Linked DNA regions of Homo sapiens: region 1 is linked to region 2. A link means that fine-mapping ties the variant in region 2 to the expression of a gene that starts in the linked region. Tissue or cell type: cerebellum. Region 2 holds a variant in brackets; the other region holds the start of a gene. All regions are shown on one strand. Distances are between the middles of the regions. Region 1 holds the start of MPHOSPH6 (M-phase phosphoprotein 6). Region 2 overlaps MPHOSPH6 (M-phase phosphoprotein 6).

What was found.
Region 1: it holds the start of MPHOSPH6, and the variant in region 2 is fine-mapped to the expression of MPHOSPH6 in cerebellum (GTEx, PIP above 0.99).

Annotation. Positions count from the first base shown.
Region 1 is chr16:82,162,812-82,173,245 of GRCh38, forward strand. MPHOSPH6 (M-phase phosphoprotein 6) reads right to left here and starts at 7,413. Exons shown (of 5, transcript NM_005792.2): 1 at 7,314-7,413; 2 at 1,271-1,383. The coding sequence starts at 7,364. RefSeq lists enhancers at 320-464, 2,973-3,117, 3,110-3,254, 7,270-7,414, cis regulatory regions at 392, 3,045, 3,182, 7,342 and a silencer at 7,389-7,548.
Region 2 is chr16:82,140,233-82,153,132 of GRCh38, forward strand. It overlaps MPHOSPH6 (M-phase phosphoprotein 6), which reads right to left. Exons shown (of 5, transcript NM_005792.2): 3 at 11,192-11,282; 4 at 9,077-9,171; 5 at 7,930-8,631. The coding sequence ends at 8,499. Among named protein-coding and RNA genes, the nearest start is that of MPHOSPH6, 24 kb to the right of the region's middle. RefSeq lists enhancers at 11,411-11,555, 12,352-12,646 and a cis regulatory region at 11,483. The variant A/G (reference allele first, on the strand shown) is at 7,479.

The DNA of each region.
Region 1 (10,434 bases), 21 kb after region 2:
CAGAAAGAAATGTAAAGGTCATTTTCTGGGAATAATATGCTGTATTAGGGGAAAAATACTGGAAACAAGATAGAAACAGTCCTGCTCTTTAATAAACAACTGGAAGGAACACTTTGGCAAGTTTACTTAAGGCATAAAAGTAAATTATAGCTCCAGCAGCAAAGGTCCCTTCCTCCCTGTGACCCTGCCCCTGGCACTATCTTCTCCCTCCTCACCAACATCTTGCTTCCTCTGAGAAGCAGAGAAAAAAAGTACCTTCTCCCGATCCCTCCTGGTGGGACATACTTTCTATCTTTAGAGAAGGGTATCTAACCTTCAAACAATGTCCAGAGGTCAGCCAAATGAACAGGGGAATATAACATTCCAAATCAAAGCCCAAACATCAGGTACAGAATGGAAACACATAAATGTGCCTCAAGACAGTAAGCAGCATCTTCAGTCATTTGACCAAAGTTTAAGTAAAACTACCATACAACAGAGCTTACTAAGGTGAGGAAAGTATCAGGGAAAAATGAAAAATAGCTTCCAGAAGGATTCAGCTAAATTAATGGATGAAATAAATCCAACACTCCTTCATTCAAAATTGTTGATCAGGCACCAGCCAAGCTTAGGGGTGGGCCAGAAACTGTCTACCCCAGCCTTCAGCACTGACTAGCTGGGTGAAGCTGGGCAAGTTACCCTCCCTTAAGCTCAGTTCCTCAACTACAAAGTGACAGAATCATAGGAGGCAGTTCCTAAGTTTGCTACGAAGATTCAATAACTACAGATGTAAAGTGTTTAGCCCAGTTCCTGGTACACACTATAGATTCAGTAAATGTTAGCTAAAATGGATGGTATTACAAGTAGTAACAATTTAAAAGAAGAAACAAAAACTTCTGACCTGCCTTAAAATGCTCAACCTAATGAACTCTGTAACCGAAACAAAACTGGAGAGACCTGAAGTACACCCCTAATCTTTAGAACTTAAGGTGATAGAGAGAACATTACAGCTTCCCCAAAGGTCTGCTGTTACTATCAGAGATATGTGGGCTAGGTTCCTTCATTCAATGTAAAAAAGGACAAAATAGTGGCTGGGAGGGGGAGTAGTAAAAATGTATAAATCCATGTACAACTTCTATAGGTTTAATATTTTTTAGTTGTGCTACTAAATCAATAAACTGAACAGAAACAATTTCATGGGCTTTATGTCACCGGAATGATGAGTTAAATTTACCAGGAGTTTCCTTCTGAATGCCACAAGCATCATCAGTATCAATTTTAATAAACCTACTCTTTCTCTTTAAGCTCTGGCAAATCCAAGTACCAGTGCTCTTCACTAATGATTTTCTTTTCTTCTTCTTCTAGTTGTTTCTTGGTTTCTGAGTCCAGTCCCCTTTGCATAAACTGTGAAAACAAACAAAATCAATGTCAGAAACTTTTCCCATTTTAGAACTGAGGAAACCCCAAATAATTTTCTTCTTCTACTTGTTCTCCTTCATTTATCTATGGAACCCATCTCAAGATTGAGGGTTGGGGCAAGTGATCAAACGGTTTAGCTCTACCCTTCCAACTTTACACTAGACGATGAGGGCTTGTGTCAGGGCATGAGAAAATGCACAATGTATATTTCCTTCGGAAAACTTAAGGGCTAAGACACCACATTCGAAGGTCTTGTGCTCACCCACAGAGCCCACTGGCTTTGGCACCTGCTGATCTGGGGTTGAAATGCCCTTCTTATCCTCTTCCACCTGGCCAACTCCTCGCCCGTCTGACATAGGTAAAGCTACTAGACTTCTATGAGTGCCAGTAAAATCAGTGCCTCTGTCCTAAATGCTTCCATGGCTCCCTCCAATAGACTCACCACATCTGAACTTTCTGAGCATCTATCTTTTCTGGAGACCTTAAGGACTGGGTGTCTGGGTCATCTCCTTCATCTGTCCCAATATGATGACTGAAGCACAGTAAGAGCCCGATAAATGTAGGCAGAAGCAAAGGTACATCTATAAGTCTGCTCTTCGTTTTTATTTTTCCTCTGAAATGCTGCTAAACTCTTGAGCTGCTCTTATCAAATCTGCAGAAAGTTGACTCAAAATATGGCAGTAAATAACAGTCCTGCTGCCAGTCTCTCACTAGCATGAATACCTGTATTTCTTCAGGGAACAAGTGAACAAACTTAAGAGGCTAACCACAGCAACAAGATAAAATATCAACACTGGAGAAAATAAAATCAGAAAATACCCAGAAGCCTCCTAGCAGTTAGGTTTCAGCTTCCACTGGTTTCTATGTATCCCCCATTTCTTTCCCTTATTCAGGTCCGATATTTCTTTTTTATTTTTTTTTTTATTTTTTTTTTTTGAGACAGAGTCTCACTCTGTCGCCCAGGCTGGAGTGTAGTGGCACGATCTCAGCTCACTGCAACCTCTGCCTCCTAGGTTCAAGAGGTTCTCCTGCCTCAGCTTCTCGAGTAGCTGAGATTACGCGCCTGCCACCACACCCAGCTAATTTTTCTGTTTTTAGTAGAGACGGGGGTTCACCACTTTGGCCAGGCTGGTCTCAAACTCCTGACTTTGTGATCCACCCGCCTCGGCCTCCCAAAGTGCTGGGATTACAGGTGTGAGCCGCTGCGCCCGGCCCAGGTCCCATATTTCTCCTCCTTCTATTCCACCTTTTCCAAACATAAGCCTTTTTAGGCATAAGCACTTTAACAATGACTACTAAGTTAAATGAAAAAACCTTAACGTTCACGAATAAAATAGTCATGCACTGCAAAATGATGTTTGGTCGACGATGGAACCCATATATGACAGTGGTCCCATAAGATTACAATGCTGCATTTTTATTGTACCTTTTCTATATCTAGATATGTTTAGATACACAGACACCACTGTGTTACAACTGCCTACAGTATTCAGTACAGTAGCATGCTGTATAGGTTTGCAGCCTACGAACAACAGGCTGTACCATATAGCCTAAGTGTGTGGTAGGCTATACCATCCAGGTTTGCGTAGATGAACCCTATGATGCTCTCACAATGATGAAATCACCTAACAATGCATGTTTCAGAACGTATCCCTGTTGTTAAATCATGTGTTAAGTAACACATGATGGTGATAACATCAAGTGCTGAAGAGAATGTGAAGAAACTGATCACTCAAACATAGCTGGTGGGAAAGTAAATGGTACAGCCACTGTGGAAAACAGCATGGCAGTTTCTTAGCAAACTAAACATACACTTACCATATGACCCAGCAACCGTCCACGCAAAATGAGTGCGTGTAAAATGGTGAAATCTGCGTCAGCTCACTGTCAATGTCCTGGCTCTTTATCATATCCTAGTGTTGTAAAATGTTGCCGCTAGGGGAGGTGGCATGAAGGACGCACGGGATATCCCTGTACACTTTTTGCAACTTCCTGTGAATCTATCACTATTTTAAGTAAAAAGTAAAAGAAAACAAGTTTGCAGACTAGTGTTTTGCAGTCGTCATCCATTTTACCTGTGTGTACATCCTCATCCCAGGAAAGAACTGCAGTTTCTGGAATGTGCACGCTATACTTCCCAGTCCTTTTGCCTTTGCGACTTAACACGTTTCCATTTTCTGCCTGGCAAAATATTTACTCTTTTAAGCCTACAGTGTGTGTCCTTTGGTAAGACTTCCTGGTTGGCATTTGGCTTGGCTCTTCCTAGGTCTGCTCCTATAAAGAAGCACATTCTCAAGACAGCCTCATCAACACTGGAATATTGTTCACCATCGTGCTGCTTTGGTGTCTCCCAGGACTACGATTCTGAATAGACCATGACTCTTGTTCATCTTGTATCATTGGTACTTAGGCGGCACCCCTGGTACACAAAAGAGCTCACTCAGTGAAAGTTCTCTGAATGGAAATGAACCTAGACCTATCTTATTTTTCCAGATTCTCTTTCTGGGATGGTTTTCTTTAAATGCAGATGCCTCATTTCATCACTAATATTCCTCGTGGTAAAACTCATCAATACTGCCCAACTGCCCTTTTTTCTCCCATTTAGTCATGTACCTATTCTTTTGGTATACAACAGCCATATACATATGTTCTGTACACATAGAAAGGACAGAACTCCCTGTGAATATGAATCAAGCACCTCCAGACTTAGGTACAAGTTCGATTCTCCTACTCTAGAGCATTTCAGAACACATTCCAAAACTAGTGAGGACTCAGAGCAGGCATCAGCATAATACAGTCCTCAGGCTAGATGTCTGTTGTCGTCGATAAAGTTTTACTGGTACACAACCATGGTCATTCGGTCTTGAACAACACTGGCAGAGCTGAGTAGTTGTAACAGAGACTGTCTGGCTCATAAGACCAAAATATTTATCATATGGTCCTTTACAGAAAGTTTGCCAAGCCCTGTTCTGAGAGTCTAACAGTGCCAAAATCACAAATAAGCACCCTCTACAACCATTCCATACTGGAAGACCTTCCATCCACATCCTTCTTTTTCTTCTTCCCATTAGGATCACCCTGCAATGGCTGACCAAGTCAGAGGCATTGAAGTGAGTCAGGATTAAATCCTCAACCCTCTTATACTTGCCTAAAAAGTGGTCCCCAACCTTTTTGGCACCAGGGATGGGCTTCCTGGAAGACAATTTTTCCACGGGTGGTGGAGAGGGGAAGGGTAGATGGTTTAGGGATGATTCAAGTGCATTACATTTATTGTGCACTTTGTTTCTATTATTATATTATAATATGTCATGAAATAATTATACAACTCACCACAATGAAGAATCAGTGGAAGACCTGAGCTTGTTTTCCTGAAACTAGACAGTCCCATCTGGGTGTGATGGGAGACAATGACAGATCATCAGGCATTAGATTCTCGTAAGTAGAGCGCAAGGTAGATCCCTCATATGCACAGTTCACAGTAGGGTTTCTGATCCTAGGAGAATCTAGGATTCTGCCACTGATCTGACAGGAGGCGGAGCTCAGGTGGTAATGCAAGCTATGGGGAACAGCTGTAAATACAGATGAAGTTTCGCTCGCTTGCCTGCCCGCTGCTCACTTCCTGCTGTGCAGCCTGTTCCTTACAGGTCATGGACTGGTGCTGGTCCATGGCCTGGCGGTTGGGGACCCATGCTATATAGGACTTAGCTCTGGTTAAGGCACCCTAAGTGCAGCTACTCCATGCCTTCTCACAGTATACTCTGTTCTATCAGTATAGACAGTGTCTCCTGCTATCTTGCCAGTAAGTTTTTTCTTATCAATGACCAAAGCTGCTAAACCAAATAGAGAATGTGGGTGATCTTTTTCCTTCTCCTTTGCTTCCAACGTCCAGTTGAGTCTCCCCATTTGGTGGGGGTGGACATTTAAGTTAATTTCTTTCTTCTTAGTTGCAACTCGGATATTTAGTTTGAGCCTGAGTCACCCAGTACATCATCTGGCTTATTCCAAGAGCTAAAACAACTGCTAAAATCTTTCCAATATCTGCTTGGCCAATTCACTCCACTTCTCTGAAGTTAATGTTATTACCAACCATAAAATCAAACTCTGTTCAGTAAAGATTCAAATTTTGCTAATATGCATGAAAGTGCTTGACAAACTCTAAGTTATGCTGCAATTTGTCCTCCACCCTCATTCACCCATTCATCCCTAACTCCATCCTAGCTCAACTCCATTCAAATCTTGCCCATATAATGTTTACTCTCTCTCTTTTTTTTTTTTTTTTGAGACAGGGTCTCCCTGTGTCACCAAGGCTGGAGTGCAGTGGCGCCATCTCAGCTCACTGCAGCCTTGATCTCCCAAGCTCAAGTGATCCTCCCACCTCAGCCTCCCAAGTAGCTGGGACTAAAGGTGCGTGCCACTAGGCCTGGCTAATATTTTGTATTTTTTGTAGAGATGGGGTTTCACCATGTTGCCCAGGATGGTCTCAAACACCTGGGCTTAAGCGATTTGTCTACCTCAGCCTCTCAAAGTGCTGGGACTACAGGCATGAGCCACTGCGAATGGCCTATCTTTCAAAACATTATGAATGCTTCCTTCCCTCTTTTGGAAATTCCACCTCTTTAAACATGACATGTAACAGTTTGCTACTCTCTAGAAGTAGTGCTTAGTGACAGGCATCACAGAGTACAGAGTAGTAATAAAGAGCCAGGGTTCTGGAGCCAGACTGCCTGAATTCCCGTCCTGTCTACACTACTTATTAGCTGTGTAACTTTGGGTAAATTACTTATTTCTGTTTCAGTTGCCTTAGCTGTAAGAAGAGAGTTACTGCCTGTAGTCACCTCAAAGTGTCATTATGTGAATTGCATAGGTTAATATACGCAAACCACTTCAATCATTGTCTAGTACTATAAATATTTGCCATTTTCTTGATACTGTTCCCCGTTTCAATAGCTTTCCATTGCTCACAAAATAAAGGAAAATATCTTTAATCTGGCCTCAAATTCCCTGCACGTTGTGACCATTGCCTACTCTGCAACCCCATTTCTTAGTACTTGCCTTCCAGACATACTGAATTGTCTCTAATTCTTGGAAATTTCCATGGTTTTCTTTTTCTTTCTTGCCTCTCAGACTTCTGAACTCAGTTTCTCCTAGTTTAGGACGCTGTGCCTTCCACCCTCCCAGTAACCTAGAGACTACCCTGCGAGACTCACCCTCTTCTCCCTGGAAGAAGAGGGAGTTCTGCCAGCAGACTGTCTTTGGACTTGGACTGAGTACTTCTCTGGGTCTCCAGCCTACTGGCCCACCCTGCAGATTTTAGACTTGCATCTCCACAGTCGTGTGATCCAGTTTTAAAAATACCCCCTCTCTCCATACACATATATACACATATACATCTTGTTGATTCTGTTTCTCTGAAGAACTCTACTAAAAGAAGTATTATCAAAATTAAAAAGGAGCTTGAACTCATGTAGCCTAATGCTCTTCTTTTTAAAGATGAGGAAAAGAGATATTCAGAGAAAGAAGTGAATTTACCTAAATTACCCAGCTAAGGAGTTACACTTCCCATATATCATATTTATTGCATATATAAGTAAGCAACAACTTCTCGAGAAGCTCGGTGAGTCCCCAAGGTCCCCAGCGCTTCTACCCTCACTGCACTGGGTAAGCTGTACCCTGACTGCTTCTGTGTACTCAAGCTCCCATCCGCCCGCGGGCCTCCTGAGAGAGTCGGCCTAATTCGTAAGCTGGTTCCCAGTAAACAGTGCAGAGCAGGCGCTAAGTGAATGAATGAGCACGAGAGCTGGAAGCCCTCTGAGGCCTCTCTGGTGTCCCTTGTCCGCCCGCCGCCTCGGCCCCGGCCAGGTTGGAAGGACCGGGTGCCCCTACCGCCCGGAGTGGCGCTCTCAGCGTCCCCGCACCTTCATGCGCAGTAGATTCTTGGACAACCTTGTCTTTCGCTCGGCCGCCATGGTAGCTTCCGCCCAGCGCCGCACTCCGGCCGCGAGCCTCACCGCACATGCGCGGAGCCGCGTGCGCAGCTGCGTCCCTCGCGTAGTGCGCGCCGCCCCGCCCCGCCCCTCCCCTGTGTCTTGCGCGCGGGCGCGGCCACTCAGCGGGCGCTCTGCTGACTGAGAGGCTCGGGTAAGCTCGCGGGGTGGCGGGCGCGGGGATGAGCGCGGCAGACCGCAAAAAAGCCGAAGTCAGAGGACGACCCAGAACTTGGCTTCCCCGAGCCGCGGGTCGCCTTCCCGGGACGTCGGCCTGGCCCCCTCGGAGGCCCATCCTCCCTCGGGGACTCCCTTCCTCAGGGACCCCCTCCACACTCAGTAGTCCTCGCCAGCCTCAGAGAGGTTTCCGCCACGCCTGCCACCCGCCTGGGCCGTGTTACCCACGTGTTTTGTCTTCATAACGTGGGTGGCGGGCTCCCTTTGTTCTGGGTCGCTTTGCAGGGTCCAGGTCGTTTTCTCTTCACCAGGACCCCACGAGTTGCTGCTTTCCTCACAGCAGCCCGGAGTCCCGGGGGAGCGCGGCGGGGGCCGCCCCAGGCAGGCTGGCTTCATTCCCAGGCTGCTGCCGATGCGTGTCTGGCCGAGTGATCTCTGCTAAACAGAAGAATCTCAAGAAATGGCAAGGGATGGAGGCAGGGATGGGTGCCAAAGACACATGAATGAGAACAAAGCCTGGTTTTGATCCAAAGAATTGAAAAGACCATAGCGAGGGGCAACATAGGGAGACCCCACCTCTACAAAAAAAAAAAAAAAAAAAAAAAAAAAAAAAATATATATATATATATATATATATATACACAAAAAATATACAAAATATACATACAAAAAATATATACAAAATATACAAAAAATGTACAAAAGATACAACAAAAATAGCTGGGTGTGGTGGCACGGATCTGTGGTCTCCACTACTTGGGAGGCTGAGGCTGGAGAATCACTGGAACCCGGGACGTCGAGGCTGCAGTGAGCTGACATCCCGCCACTGGACTCCAGTCTGGGCTACAGAGTGAGGCTTTGTCTCAAAAACAAAACAACAAAACAAAAAAGAATTTAAAAAACCACTGAAAATAGGGTAGCGTTCCTACCCTGGTGTTTAATGCTCTGGGTACCACCTAAACACGTTTTCGAAAACCATTCCCAGGTCCGACGCTTTGGAACACCCTCAAGCTAATAGCATCTCGGCTGATACCATGAGTTCTACGTCAGATTGTTGACCTGGTCACCTTAGGGCTAATTAGTTCACTTAATCCCCATAAGAACCGGAAAGAAGGTATTGTCATCGTGTTGTTAAGGATTCTGAGACACAGAGTGGGTAACGCACTTGGTGTTCACACAGCTAATCCATGTTAGAGCTGAAATTCAAACACCGATTTGGATGTTAAAAGCCCTTTAGGTTTTCCCAGGGGTAAATAAAATCATTGTAATGTACCAAGTGGCTACAGAATCTCATTCACTTGTGACTGTGTGTGAGATGCCGGGGGTATAATAGCGTGTAAAAACACATATCCCCACCTTTCCTGAAGCTGATATTCTGGACGTAAGTAAGTGGCGACTGCTATGAAAGAGAGAAAACAGTGATGTGACAGAGTAACGCTTAGGGTTACTTTAGACCAGGTGGTTTGGAACGGCCCTTGTCAGATGATGGTGCTAAGGCTTGAAAGTTGAGAAAAACGTGTTTTATGAAGAGTTGGAGGTAGAGTGTGCTCAGAAGACAGCATCAACTGTAAAGGTCCTCAGATATGAACAAGACAAAGTCCGTGTTAAAAGTTTTACAAGTGGAAACAGTAGAGGTTAATCATAAGCCACATTGCATCCCCCAAAATTCATATGTTGAAGTTCCAACTCCCAGTGCCTCAGAATGTGAATGTATTTGGAGACAGTCCTTTTTAAAGAGGTGATTAAAACAAGACCCTTAGGGTGAGCCCTAATCCAGTCTGACTGATGTCGTCATAAGAAGAGGAAATTTGGACACAGACACCAAGGTTGTGTTTGCATAAAGGAAAGACTATCTGAAAGCCAAAAAAATAAAAAAAATTTAAAAAATCTCTCAGGAGAAACCAAACCTGCCAACACCTTGATCTTAGACCTCTAGCCTCCAGCACTGTGAGAAAATCACAACCAGTCTGTATAGGGCACCCAGTGTGTAGTGTTTTCTTATAGTAACCGTAGCAGACTAATATACCATACAATTAGCTGTAGATGACAGTTGTGATGAGAGCCCGGTAAGGAAAGTTTGAGGGTCATGAAAGGGTACAACGAGGGTACCTAAACCATTCTGGCCTGGAAATGAGGACTCTCCTAAACGTAGAGAGGAGTTAATCAGGGAAAAGGCCCACCAATCATTCACATTGTTATGCTGCTTTTACCACCATAGGACTCTTCATCTTGCAAAATGAAAACTCTTGTTCCCATTAAACACTAATTCCTCAGGTCCTCACGACTACTTTCTGTCTCTATAAGTTTGGTTTTTCTGTGGGATTCTCAAAGAACTGCTGTGAGAGTAGAGGTGAAGGGAGAAGTGACTCAGTCTGCCTTCTGCACTTGGGAAACTAAGGGGCGACTGAACTAGGATGAACACATGTCTTGTCAGCTTCAGAAGAGGAAAACAGCATTCCCGGCGAAATAAGAGCATATATCTATCATGTAAGGATGCTGGAAGCGCCACACCTTCTCTATGGACCCCTGTTGTACCAGTCTGTGTTCTGATTTGTTTTTCTGAAACATTGACATTATTATGTTATTCTTTCACTCTAAAATTTACAATATCTGTTATTGTCTGAGAGATAAAGCTCACCTTCTTCAACCTGCCACTCAAAATTCTATTTTTCTATTTGATGGTGAAAATCCTTATAATTAAAATGAATCCCCCAAGTCTTTTCCCACCCCTCAACATGTTATAAATGAGAAGTGATTTAAGAGTAATAGTGTAATTTTAACTTTGAAAACTACCTGACAAGATAATTCCTTGATCTTTCTATGCACCTGAATTGCAGAGCACAGAGGATAGATCTCACAATCAATAATGTGTTAA
Region 2 (12,900 bases):
AGCAACGGAACAAAGCTGGATGGAGAATGACTTTGACGAGCTGAGAGAAGAAGGCTTCAGACGATCAAATTACTCTGAGCTACGGGAGGACATTCAAACCAAAGGCAAAGAGGTTGAAAACTTTGAAAAAAATTTAGAAGAATGTATAACTAGAATAACCAATACAGAGAAGTGCTTAAAGGAGCTGATGGAGCTGAAAACCAAGGCTCGAGAACTACGTGACGAATGCAGAAGCCTCAGGAGCTGATGCGATCAACTGGAAGAAAGGGTATCAGTGATGGAAGATGAAATGAATGAAATGAAGCGAGAAGGGAAGTTTAGAGAAAAAAGAATAAAAAGAAATGAGCAAAGCCTCCAAGAAATATGGGACTATGTGAAAAGACCAAATCTACATCTGATTGGTGTACCTGAAAGTGATGGGGAGAATGGAACCAAGTTGGAAAACACTCTGCAGGATATTATCCAGGAGAACTTCCCCAATCTAGCAAGGCAGGCCAACGTTCAGTTTCAGGAAATACAGAGAACGCCACAAAGATACTCCTCGAGAAGAGCAACTCCAAGACACATAATTGTCAGATTCACCAAAGTTGAAATGAAGGAAAAAAATGTTAAGGGCAGCCAGAGAGAAAGGTCGGATTACCCTCAAAGGGAATCCCATCAAACTAACAGCGGATCTCTCGGGAGAAACCCTACAAGCCAGAAGAGAGTGGGGGCCAATATTCAGCATTCTTAAAGAAAAGAATTTTCAACCCAGAATTTCATATCCAGCCAAACTAAGCTTCATAAATGAGGGAGAAATAAAATACTTTACAGACAAGCAAATGCTGAGAGATTTTGTCACCACCAGGCCTGCCCTACAAGAGCTCCTGAAGGAAGCGCTAAACATGGAAAGGAACAACCGCTGCAAAATCAAGCCAAAATGTAAAGACCATCGAGACTAGGAAGAAACTGCATCAACTAACGAGCAAAATCACCAGCTAACATCATAATGACAGGATCAAATTCACACATAACAATATTAACTTTAAATGTAAATGGACTAAATGCTCCAATTAAAAGACACAGACTGGCAAATTGGATAAAGAGTCAAGACCCATCAGTGTGCTGTATTCAGGAAACCCATCTCAAGTGCAGAGACACACATAGGCTCAAAATAAAAGGATGGAGGAAGATCTACCAAGCAAATGGAAAACAAAAAAAGGCAGGGGTTGCCATCCTAGTCTCTGATAAAACAGACTTTAAACCAACAAAGATCAAAAGAGACAAAGAAGGCCATTACATAATGGTAAAGGGATCAATTCAACAAGAAGAGCTAATTATCCTAAATATATATGCACCCAATACAGGAGCACCCAGATTCATAAAGCAAGTCCTGAGTGACCTACAAAGAGACTTAGACTCCCACACATTAATAATGGGAGACTTTAACACCCCACTGTCAACATTAGACAGATCAACGAGACAGAAAGTCAACAAGGATACCCAGGAATTGAACTCAGCTCTGCACCAAGCAGACCTAATAGACATCTACAGAACTCTCCACCCCAAATCAACAGAATATACATTTTTTTCAGCACCACACCACACCTATTCCAAAATTGACCACATACTTGGAAGTAAAGCTCTCCTCAGCAAATGTAAAAGAACAGAGATTATAACAAACTATCTCTCAGACCACAGTGCAATCAAACTAGAACTCAGGATTAAGAATCTCACTCAAAACCGCTCAACTACATGGAAACTGAACATCCTGCTTCTGAATGACTACTGGATACCTAACAAAATGAAGGCAGAAATAAAGATGTTCTTTGAAACCAATGAGAACAAAGACACAACATACCAGAATCTCTGGGACGCATTCAAAGCAGTGTGTAGAGGGAAATTTATAGCACTAAATGCCCACAAGAGAAAGCAGGAAAGATCCAAAATTGACACCCTAACATCACAATTAAAAGAACTAGAAAAGCAAGAGCAAACACATTCAAAAGCTAGCAGAAGGCAAGAAATAACTAAAATCAGAGCAGAACTGAAGGAAATAGAGACACAAAAAACCCTTCAAAAAATTAATGAATCCAGGAGCTGGTTTTTTGAAAGGATCAACAAAATTGATAGACCACTAGCAAGACTAATAAAGAAAAAAAGATAGAAGAATCAAATAGACACAATAAAAAATGATAAAGGGGATATCACCACCGATCCCACAGAAATACAAACTACCATCAGAGAATGCTACAAACACCTCTACGCAAATAAACTAGAAAATCTAGAAGAAATGGATAAATTCCTCGACACATACACTCTCCCAAGACTAAACCAGGAAGAAGTTGAATCTCTGAATAGACCAATAACAGGATCTGAAATTGTGGCAATAATCAATAGCTTACCAACCAAAAAGAGTCCAGGACCAGACGGATTCACAGCCGAATTCTACCAGAGGTACAAGGAGGAACTGGTACCATTCCTTCTGAAACTATTCCAATCAATAGAAAAAGAGGGAATCCTCCCTAACTCATTTTATGAGGCCAGCATCATCCTGATACCAAAGCCGGGCAGAGACACAACCAAAAAAGAGAATTTTAGACCAATATCCTTGATGAACATTGATGCAAAAATCCTCAATAAAATACTGGCAAAACGAATCCAGCAGCACATCAAAAAGCTTATTCACCATGATCAAGTGGGCTTCATCCCTGGGATGCAAGGCTGGTTCAATATACGCAAATCAATAAATGTAATCCAGCATATAAACAGAGCCAAAGACAAAAACCACATGATTATCTCAATAGATGCAGAAAAAGCCTTTGACAAAATTCAACAACCCTTCATGCTAAAAATTCTCAGTAAATTAAGTATTGATGGGACGTATTTCAAAATAATGAGAGCTATGACAAACCCACAGCCAATATCATACTGAATGGGCAAAAACTGGAAGCATTCCCTTTGAAAACGGGCACAAGACAGGGATGCCCTCTCTCAGCACTCCTATTCAACATAGTGTTGGAGGTTCTGGCCAGGGCAATTAGGCAGGAGAAGGAAATAAAGGGTATTCAATTAGGAAAAGAGGAAGTCAAATTGTCCCTGTTTGCAGATGACATGATTGTATATCTAGAAAACCCCATTGTCTCAGCCCAAAATCTCCTTAAGCTCATAAGCAACTTCAGCAAAGTCTCAAGATACAAAATCAATGTAGAAAAATCACAAGCATTCTTATACACCAACAACAGACAAACAGAGAGCCAAATCGTGAGTGAACTCCCATTCACAATTGCTTCAAAGACAATAAAATACCTAGGAATCCAACTTACAAGGGATGCGAAGGACCTCTTCAAGGAAAACTACAAACCACTGCTCAAGGAAATAAAAGAGGATACAAATGGAAGAACATTCCATGCTCATGGGTAGGAAGAATCAATATCGTGAAAATGGCCATACTGCCCAAGGTAATTTACAGATTCAATGCCATCCCCATCAAGCTACCAATGACTTTCTTCACAGAATTGGAAAAAACTACTTTCAAGTTCATATGGAACCAAAAAAGAGCCTGCATCACCAAGGCAATCCTAAGCCAAAAGAACAAAGCTGGAGGCATCACGCTACCTGACTTCAAACTATACTACAAGGCTACAGTAACCAAAACAGCATGGTACTGGTACCAAAACAGAGATATAGGTCAATGGAACAGAACAGAGCCCTCGAAAATAACGCCGCATATCTACAACTATCTGATCTTGGAGAAACCTGAGAAAAACAAGCAATGGGGAAAGGATTCCCTATTTAATAAATGGTGCTGGGAAAACTGGCTAGCCATATGTAGAAAGCTGAAACTGGATCCCTTCCTTACACCTTATACAAAAATCAATTCAAGATGGATTAAAGATTTAAACGTTAGACCTAAAACCATAAAAACCCTAGAAGAAAACCTAGGCATTACCATTCAGGACATAGGCATGGGCAAGGACTTCATGTCCAAAACACCAAAAGCAATGGCAACAAAAGCCAAAATTGACAAATGGGATCTAATTAAACTAAAGAGCTTCTGCACAGCAAAAGAAACTACCATCAGAGTGAATAGGCAACCTACAGAATGGGAGAAAATTTTCACAACCTACTCATCTGACAAAGGGCTAATATCCAGAATCTACAATGAACTCAAACAAATTTACAAGAAAAAAACAAACAACCCCATCAAAAAGTGGGTGAAGGACATGAACAGACACTTCTCAAAAGAAGACATTTATGCAGCCAAAAAACACATGAAAAAATGCTCGTCATCAGTGGCCATCAGAGAAATGCAAATCAAAACCACAATGAGATACCATCTCACACCAGTTAGAATGGCAATCATTAAAAAGTCAGGAAACAACAGGTGCTGGAGAGGATGTGGAGAAATAGGAACACTTTTACACTGTTGGTGGGACTGTAAACTAGTTCAACCATTGTGGAAGTCAGTGTGGCGATTCCTCAGGGATCTAGAACTAGAAATACCATTTGACCCAGCCATCCCATTACTGGGTATATACCCAAAGGACTATAAATCATGTTGCTATAAAGACACATGCACACGTATGTTTATTGCGGCATTATTCACAATAGCAAAGACTTGGAACCAACCCAAATGTCCAACAATGATAGATTGGATTAAGAAAATGTGGCACATATACACCATGGAATACTATGCAGCCATAAAAAATGATGAGTTCATGTCCTTTGTAGGGACATGGATGAAATTGGAAATCATCATTCTCAGTAAACTATTGCAAGAACAAAAAACCAAACACCACATATTCTCACTCATAGGTGGGAATTGAACAATGAGATCACATGGACACAGGAAGGGGAACATCACACTCTGGGGACTGTGGTGGGGTGGGGGGAGGGGGGAGGGATAGCATTGGGAGATATACCTAATGCTAGATGACGATTTAGTGGGTGCAGCGCACTAGCATGGCATATGTATACATATGTAACTAACCTGCACAATGTGCACATGTACCCTAAAACTTAAAGTATAATAAAAAAATAAAAAAATTAAAAAAAATAAAGTTGACTCAAACTTAAAAAAAAAAAAAATACAGAGGCAGTGTTTTTTAAAAAGTGCATACTAATTCCTGGATTCATGAGATAACTTCCAGGAAGTTGTAGATAGATAAACATTTCAACTTTAATCATTATACGCTTGAATGCAGATTAGAAAAATTAGCATTTTAAGCTTAGCAAACCCATGATTTCAGATATTATTGCTTTAGGATGTCGGTAACAGTTAAAATCTAGTCAGGAGATTAAAAGCCACCCTTATTTTAACAGAGGAAATTAAATATTAAGAATTGTTAATTGGGTATTAAAGAACTAAACGAGGCAAAAGGAAAACACTGAGGTATCATGCAGGAAGCTGCGACTCCTAGGGAAGAGAGGGAAATTGTTCAATTTTTGAAACTTGGGAGGGGCCCCAAAGAGCCAAAACTCAGACCTCTGACATTAAGTTGTTATTCTGCTAATATCAGTGTCTCTGGGTTGGGTGGGGGAACCCTGTGGCCAAGGCGCTGGACAGATGTCGGAATGAATACAGGGTGGTTGGTGCTGGTGATGTCTCTGAGGAGTTGCTATGAGGCTGTTGCAGCAAGTGTTGGGAAGACTAAACTCATATTAACAACTCTTCCTGGAATACCAGCCTCTGCTGGGGTGCAGGTGTTTTGAGGGTGACAAAGAAATAGGAAAAGAAGAGGAAGCAGAGAGAAGGGACACATCCTGTCTTCTTCCTCTAGCCTCGCCATCTCCAGCTGGGCCTCCACTGGCTGATCCTAATTAAGTCAGCTGCATAGGAGACATGGGGTTTGCTCAGTCCCAGCCCGGCACTAAAAGCTGAATACAGAGGGTGAGTTTGATTCTGTGAAGCAACAGCTTTGAATCTGCCACAACCTGCCCTTTCGGCCATTTAGCATCCACAGACTTCTAACCTAAACTTCCTGCAACAAGGAAAACAACTGTTTCTACCGAATACACTGCAAACATCCTTTGTACAAGATACCCTCAGCCTTTCTCCAAAATGAGGAGACACAAAGTCCCAGCAGACATTCTATCAGTTAATTACACCTAAAATTAATCACAAACCCACCTAATATTCTTACCCTACGACTAAATAGCGAAATTAACGCCCTAAGAAAACAAAATAAGGAGGTAAGAGAAGAAATTAGTACACACACATACACACACACACACACACACACACACACGCAGAAGAAAACAGTCATCCCTGGGTATCCAAGGACTGGTTCCAGGACCTCCTGCAGATACCAAAATCCACAGATGCTCAAACCCCTTACCTTAGACAGCATGTTTGCATATAACTTACGTGCATCCTCCTGTATCCCTTAGACTACCTCTAGATGATTTATGATGCCTAATACAATGTCAATGCTATGTAGTTGTCATACTGTATTGTACTTTATATTATTTTTTATTGTATTTTTATTTTTTGAGTACTTTCTGTGGTTAGTCAAGTCGATATCTGGAACTCACTGATATGGAGTGCCAACCCTCCATGTAACAGTTGCAGTAACTTGTTTCTGTAACTGGCTAGTCATAAGGCTGAAATAATAAATTTCCTTCTTTCCTTACACATCCCATGGTTCCTCTTCCCTCAGCCAGTAGCTCAGCTTCTCAGGATTTATACGGGGTGGGGTGTACCAAAACATCATTCCCTAAAGGACCTCAATCATTCCCCTCTTTGAGACTGTTATAGCTGTCCCTTAGAAGTTAGTGGCATACATGGGAAGTGCTAAAAATGCCCTAGAGAATCCTTGGGTTCCAGATGCCTTTCTCACCATCCACTGTGTAGGAACGACATAAATGCCCCTTTGTTGCCAGGATCACTTGCACCAGCCAAAACAGTAACCTCCAGCCCGTTGGTTCAGTGCTGAAATGACTGGATAGTCTCAATTCCTGTCTCAATGGAGCCATTGTTGTGTCCCCTAGCGGGAGCACTCCTCCCTTGGGAACTCAAGAGAAGCAGGAAACAAATCACCCATGAGTGGGACCACTCCATCTACCTCTGCTTGATTCCAGACCGTGCATTCTGACCAAGAACAGTCCCATGGAGTGGTCACTCAATCAAAGCACACGTTACATTTGTCAGATGGAGTTGTATTCCACCTAGGGCCATAAATGTGTCTTCAGCAGACCATTCCATCGTCCTATTATGCCCGCTATTCCTGGGTGATGGGGGATATGCTAAGACCAGTGCACTCAAGAGGCATAAGCCCCCATTACCCCACTTCTTTTATGGTGAAATGAGTTTGTCAATCAGAAGTCGACTGTGCAGACAGGTACATAAGACACGTAGTAAGTCCGGTAGTAAGTCCGTGGATTGTGGTGCTGGTAAGGCACTGGGAAGAACTCGTTACTTCCCAGAGTTGGGAGGTGCATCATTCTCATACTCACAGTGAAAAAAAAAAAAAAGGCCAGATTAACTTCAAAGTCCT[A/G]TCTTTTCTCATAACTCACCAGAGAACTGAGGTCACAGAGCAATAAAACCTTCCTTACAGAGATTTGAGGAGAGAGGAGACATGTACCTCATTCACTTCCTGGGAGCGAAATTAAATCAGTAGTTCTCAGAAGTCCTAGGTACTTATCTGCAGACAGAAAGACAGACACACATACACACACTTAATTCTATGTGCTTCTTTCTGTACTTAGCATTTAGAATAGAGTTCAGACTAGGAGATGGTACCATTGGTCAGTGGTAAATTCTGTTGGGTTATACCGTAAGAAACTAAAGGTTATTTTTGACCTGTAAAAGGCAATTTCTTATGGTTCAACCTAATACATCACTATATTCTGATCAATGGCTGTTTTTTAAAGTTATTATTTGGAAAAAAGTTATATTACTGAATTAGACTAAAATTGTTATTTGAAAGTACAAGAAAATATAAAAAGTATGTGAAAGTAGATTTTTATTACAGAGCAAATTTTTCTATCAATTCAATGCTTTAAATAAAACAACATAATACCATAAACTGACAATGACCTGGGAGCATGTAAATACTTAAGGCTGGAGAGGCATTTTTATTCTTGATAAATTTATATAATAAATTCTTATGACATTTGATTCCAAATTGTATGTACGAATTGGCTTGACATAATAAATATAAACATAAGGGCAATTTAAACATTGGCAGTAGTTTATGTAAGTCAATTCAAGGTCAGTGACTGGAGAACTATATTAAGAGAAACCTGAGGTAAAAAAAATCTTTAGGAAGCAGCCCTGTAACAATGTACATTTGTAGATCAGGGGCTAAAAATCCACTCTGAATGAATACCAAGAAGCAAAGGATGTACAACATCCATCACACATCTGTTTCAAAAACAGCATGTTTCTAAAATGATAATCTCTTTACAAGTAAACGTTACAGTATTAATAACTATAGAGACACCATTGGGATGAGCTCCAGATGCCCTGCTGACTTCCACCAAGCACCCCTGGGCCATCGCTTAAGGCATCCATCTTAATCCTGGGGCTTTAAGAACATCTTCTTTGCTTTAATTGGTGTTATGTCTCCATTTTCATCTTCTTCATAATTGGCATGGTCTCTCTTTCTGGCAAACTTTTTCCCAATTGTCCCCACCAAGGTCTCATATCTGTCAAGAGGACAGGCAGCACACGTTTAATTTCAAATAAAAAGGTAGGGATCAAGCCTTGTCAAGAATATCAGACCAAATATGCAATAAAAAAGATTACGAAAAAGAAAACTATCATTAAAAGAAACCATCTGATTTAACAATTTATGAACTTCTCTAAGAGTGATTAAATTCCTTGCCATTTTGGTGTTTGCATTACCCTAAATAAATAGAGATGTACATTTTAAAATACACATTTCCAGCAGCTCTGGAAATGGGCCCTCAACTGGCAGCCTGAGACAGGTCTGTGGCCCCCGTAGGCCATTAAGAGAAGGCCGATCACAGTCATCGTCCTACTGGGGGACTCCCTTGAAAGCTGCCGTGCACTGTGGGGTAAGAGGAGCATTCCTGGGAGAGCCAATGAATGCTAGGTCCAGATTAGAAGGCTGCTGCGCAGCACGGTTACCTTCTAGCCATCTCTTCATCTGACACATCAAGCTCTACTGTTTCATCTTCAACTTCTTCTGCTTTGTGCTTAGCATTCATCTGAAGCATCAATTTCTGAAAAATACACCAGTGCTGACCTTCAGGCTAGAAAACGCTTGTGAAAGGAACTGATGTCAAACTTACCTGAAGGCAGAGAAACTGAAGTCAAATAATCTAGAGAACTAGTCAAAATTGATAAGGGACTCTCTGTAATACTTGATACCACAATGGTGTAAGAGAAGTAAGCTCTGAGTCAAAAAAATAGTAAGGCAAAGCCCCACTGAATTATACTTAGGGTGAATTTAAAGTGTATTTAAGATCATAAATCTTAGTATTAGTTACTCATATTTAAAGCAGGCATACTGCTGACACATTCCGGTGAGTGGGGGAAGAAATAATAAACTTTCAGATTTTCCCTGAACTTCCCCCACCCATCTTTAAGCCATATGGAAGAAACACTAGTCGTCAGTAATAATTTTAAATGCATCTCTTGGTGGTGGTGGTGGTGAGTGGAGGAGGTGGGAGAAGTGGAAGGCTGGCCCTGTTTAATGGAGGGAATCTGCACCTCAGCCTTACCCTCCTAAACTTTAGAGTGGATAATGCATCCCATGTAACATCCATGCACCACAGGGTCTCTCCTCCAACTCTTTCACATAAACCTTTTTGTGATAATTATCCTCTGACCTTTTTTTTTTTAAATGTGTAATCTCTTCTTTTTAGCAAGAGGAGAAGGAATAAAAGATGAGAAATCAGTCTTAACTAGTTTTTCTAAGGCTTAAAAGAGTGATAATAGTTTAAAACCTTTTCCTAGGGGGAGTGTATTCAGTGTTTCAGAATCCAGTAATTAGGGCCATTTTCTAACACCCGTCCCTGCCCCCCATCAATTTCTGCGGGCAGTGGCACCTCTCCTTTCCCATTGCAGCAGACATACTTTGGAATGCTCGCCTATCCAAACCCTACTCTTTGAATACCACATCTTCATAATCCCTGCCTTTTTCTTCCCTCTTCACCCCACTGCCCAGCCCCTCTCCTTCTCAATCTGAAGCTTAATTAAAGAAAGTCAAAGCGAGACCAGCATATATTAAAAACAAACACTTCTAACATAACACCTTAATTATCACACATGCCTCCTCCCACTCCGCCAAAAAAGAAAAGGAAAACTAACCTAGAATCTTTCAATAAACTCTGGCAATTGGCTTAGTTAACTGTGGCTCCTAGAGAAGTGGTTCTTAACTGGGGATGATTTTCCCCACCAGGGAACCTGTGAAAATGTCTGGAAACATTTTTGGTTGTCACAGCTGGGTAGGAGGGTGGGGTGTGTGTGTGCTACTGATATTTAGTTGGTAGAGAACAGAGGACAGGGATGTGGTTCGTCATTCTCTTAGGAAAGCCACCACCACAAAGAATTATCTGGCCCCAAATGTTAACACTGCCAAGGGCAAGAAACACTGGCTTCAAGTAATATTTACCAAACTAAAGATTTATATCTCATGTGTCCATTTGGTTCATCAAGTACTTGATAGGATGGCTTTTAACATATGAGCCAGAGTTCTAATGAATATTTGTTAAATAAAGGTCTGCTTCTCTATCCTGGAGCAGGAAAATTCAAATGAATAGCTCAGTTATAAGGCAAATATTCATTTTTCAAACAAACTGTCGAAAGGATTCATTTAAAAATCTACTTACAAGCTTGGATTACAACAGTCCATTAAAAAGTCAAATGACATAATTCTAAAGTAACATTTTTCCGTTAGAAAAAATACATGTATAGGTGCCAGAAAATAACTTTTCATAATAGCATGATATGAATAAAATCTTGACGTTCCTGTAAAAGACACAACTTGAAATTTTAATATTTATGGTGGCTCTGTCAAGGGCTGTATACTGCTATATGAAATTATCTACTCACCTCTACCATAAAACTAGACTGCAATGCCTCCAATTTCTTTAAATAGCTATGGCGATATTTCAAGACTTGTTATTTTCTATATAATGAGTAGAAATGGTACCTGGTGGAGAAACACCTAAGCCCAATTATTAGCAGAAAAAAATTCAATTGGAAAAATTTTTAATTTGAAGCAATTATATTTAATACCTCAACCTCAGGATTAAATCCTCTGAATGACATTCTTCCATAGAGAAGATCTTCACATAGTAAGAAACTCTGCTCTTCTATTATGAAACTCCTAAATGGGAAAATAAAAATAGCATTTCTCCATATATAAAGCACAGCAAACAAAAGCCAACACTTTGAATAAAAAAAATAATCAACCTATGGTTCTCAGTAGAATGAAGTAAAAATACAGTAAGATTTCTAACTTAGGGTTAAAAATAAAATCTGATTAATTTGGTCAGCAAAGGCATTAGGAGACAAGAGCAGCAAGCTAGAGGCACAGCCTCTCTTAAACACCACATTTAATTTGCATAAATATCTACATAATATAAAGATCTAAAGTATTGACAATAAACTTGAATTTGCCAAAGTTGAAGCAAAGTTTCTTTTGTGTTTACATCCCCTCACCATATTTTTTTCCAATTCTTTTTCAGAAAGGAAATAATATGTATGTAAAAATACACATACAGTATACAGTGACACACTACTCCAAATCATTTTAATAAAGTTTCTGGCATATTTTGTCTTTCGTTCTCAGGGATTTCAAAAATTCCATTCTCTAATTATCAAAGCAGCACATTTTAAGGAACGTAATTTGGAAAGCAGAATAAAGTATGAGTTTATAAACTGCCTGTAAGCTCCTTACCAAGAGGATAAAAAGGACTGTTAGTATATTTGAATATTTCCTTCCAGTCTTTTTTGTACTTGCATTTACGTTGATTCTTGAACACAGGTCTGAGCTGTGTGGTGCACTTATACACAGATTTTTTTCAAAAAATTTCAATAGTTTTTGGGGAACAGGTGGTTTTTTGGTTACATGGATAAGTTCTTTAGTGGTGACTTCTGAGATTTTGGCCCCCACCAAATTCTTATTACAAATCCAGGAGAAGTAGTGGGAAATCAGAGGCTTGAGCAGCTTTAACAGTGTTATCAGTCAGAGCTCTTAGCTATAAACACCAAAGGCTGACCCTGGATGACTTCAGCAGAGAAGGAATTTACTGTAAGAACACTGTAGGCTCTTCATTTCCAAGGGGGACTGGTTCCAGGACCCCTTGTAGATATCAAAATCTGTGACACAAAGAGCCAGCTGTACTGGGCATCTCAGAATCACCGGGAAGGCTGAAGGGGCAGAATTGGAAGACGGGCAGAAATAACGGTCGCTAGGTGGTTGCACCAGAACCAAAATCATGCTAGAGAATGACCCTAGGAAAACCACTGTTGCTGCTGACGGGGCTGAGCACGACACCACTGATGGCATTGGGGCAGGTTGCGTTCCCTGGACCAGGATGTTTCTGTCTGCAGCAGAATTTCTCTGCTGAGTCACCACCACATGACCGTAAATCCAAGGTGACATATCTATCTCCAGCCTGGCCATAAACCCTAAAGCATGGCAGGAAAGCAAACATGTGGCTTTTAAGGCTTGTTTGCCGGAGTAGGCTCTGATTCTCATAAAGATTCCCTTATGCAACAAACACTTATTAAACCAAACTGTGTGTATTAAATCAAACTGCGGAAACAGCCACCAGTAAAAGAGCCTCAGCTGGGCACAGTGGCGGATGCCTGTAGTCCCAGTTACTCAGGTGGCTGAGGCAGGAGAACTGCTCGCATCCCAGAAGTGGAAGTTGCAATGAGTCAAGATTGTGCCACTGCACTCCAGCCTGGGTGACAGTGTCAAACACTCACCTCCAAAA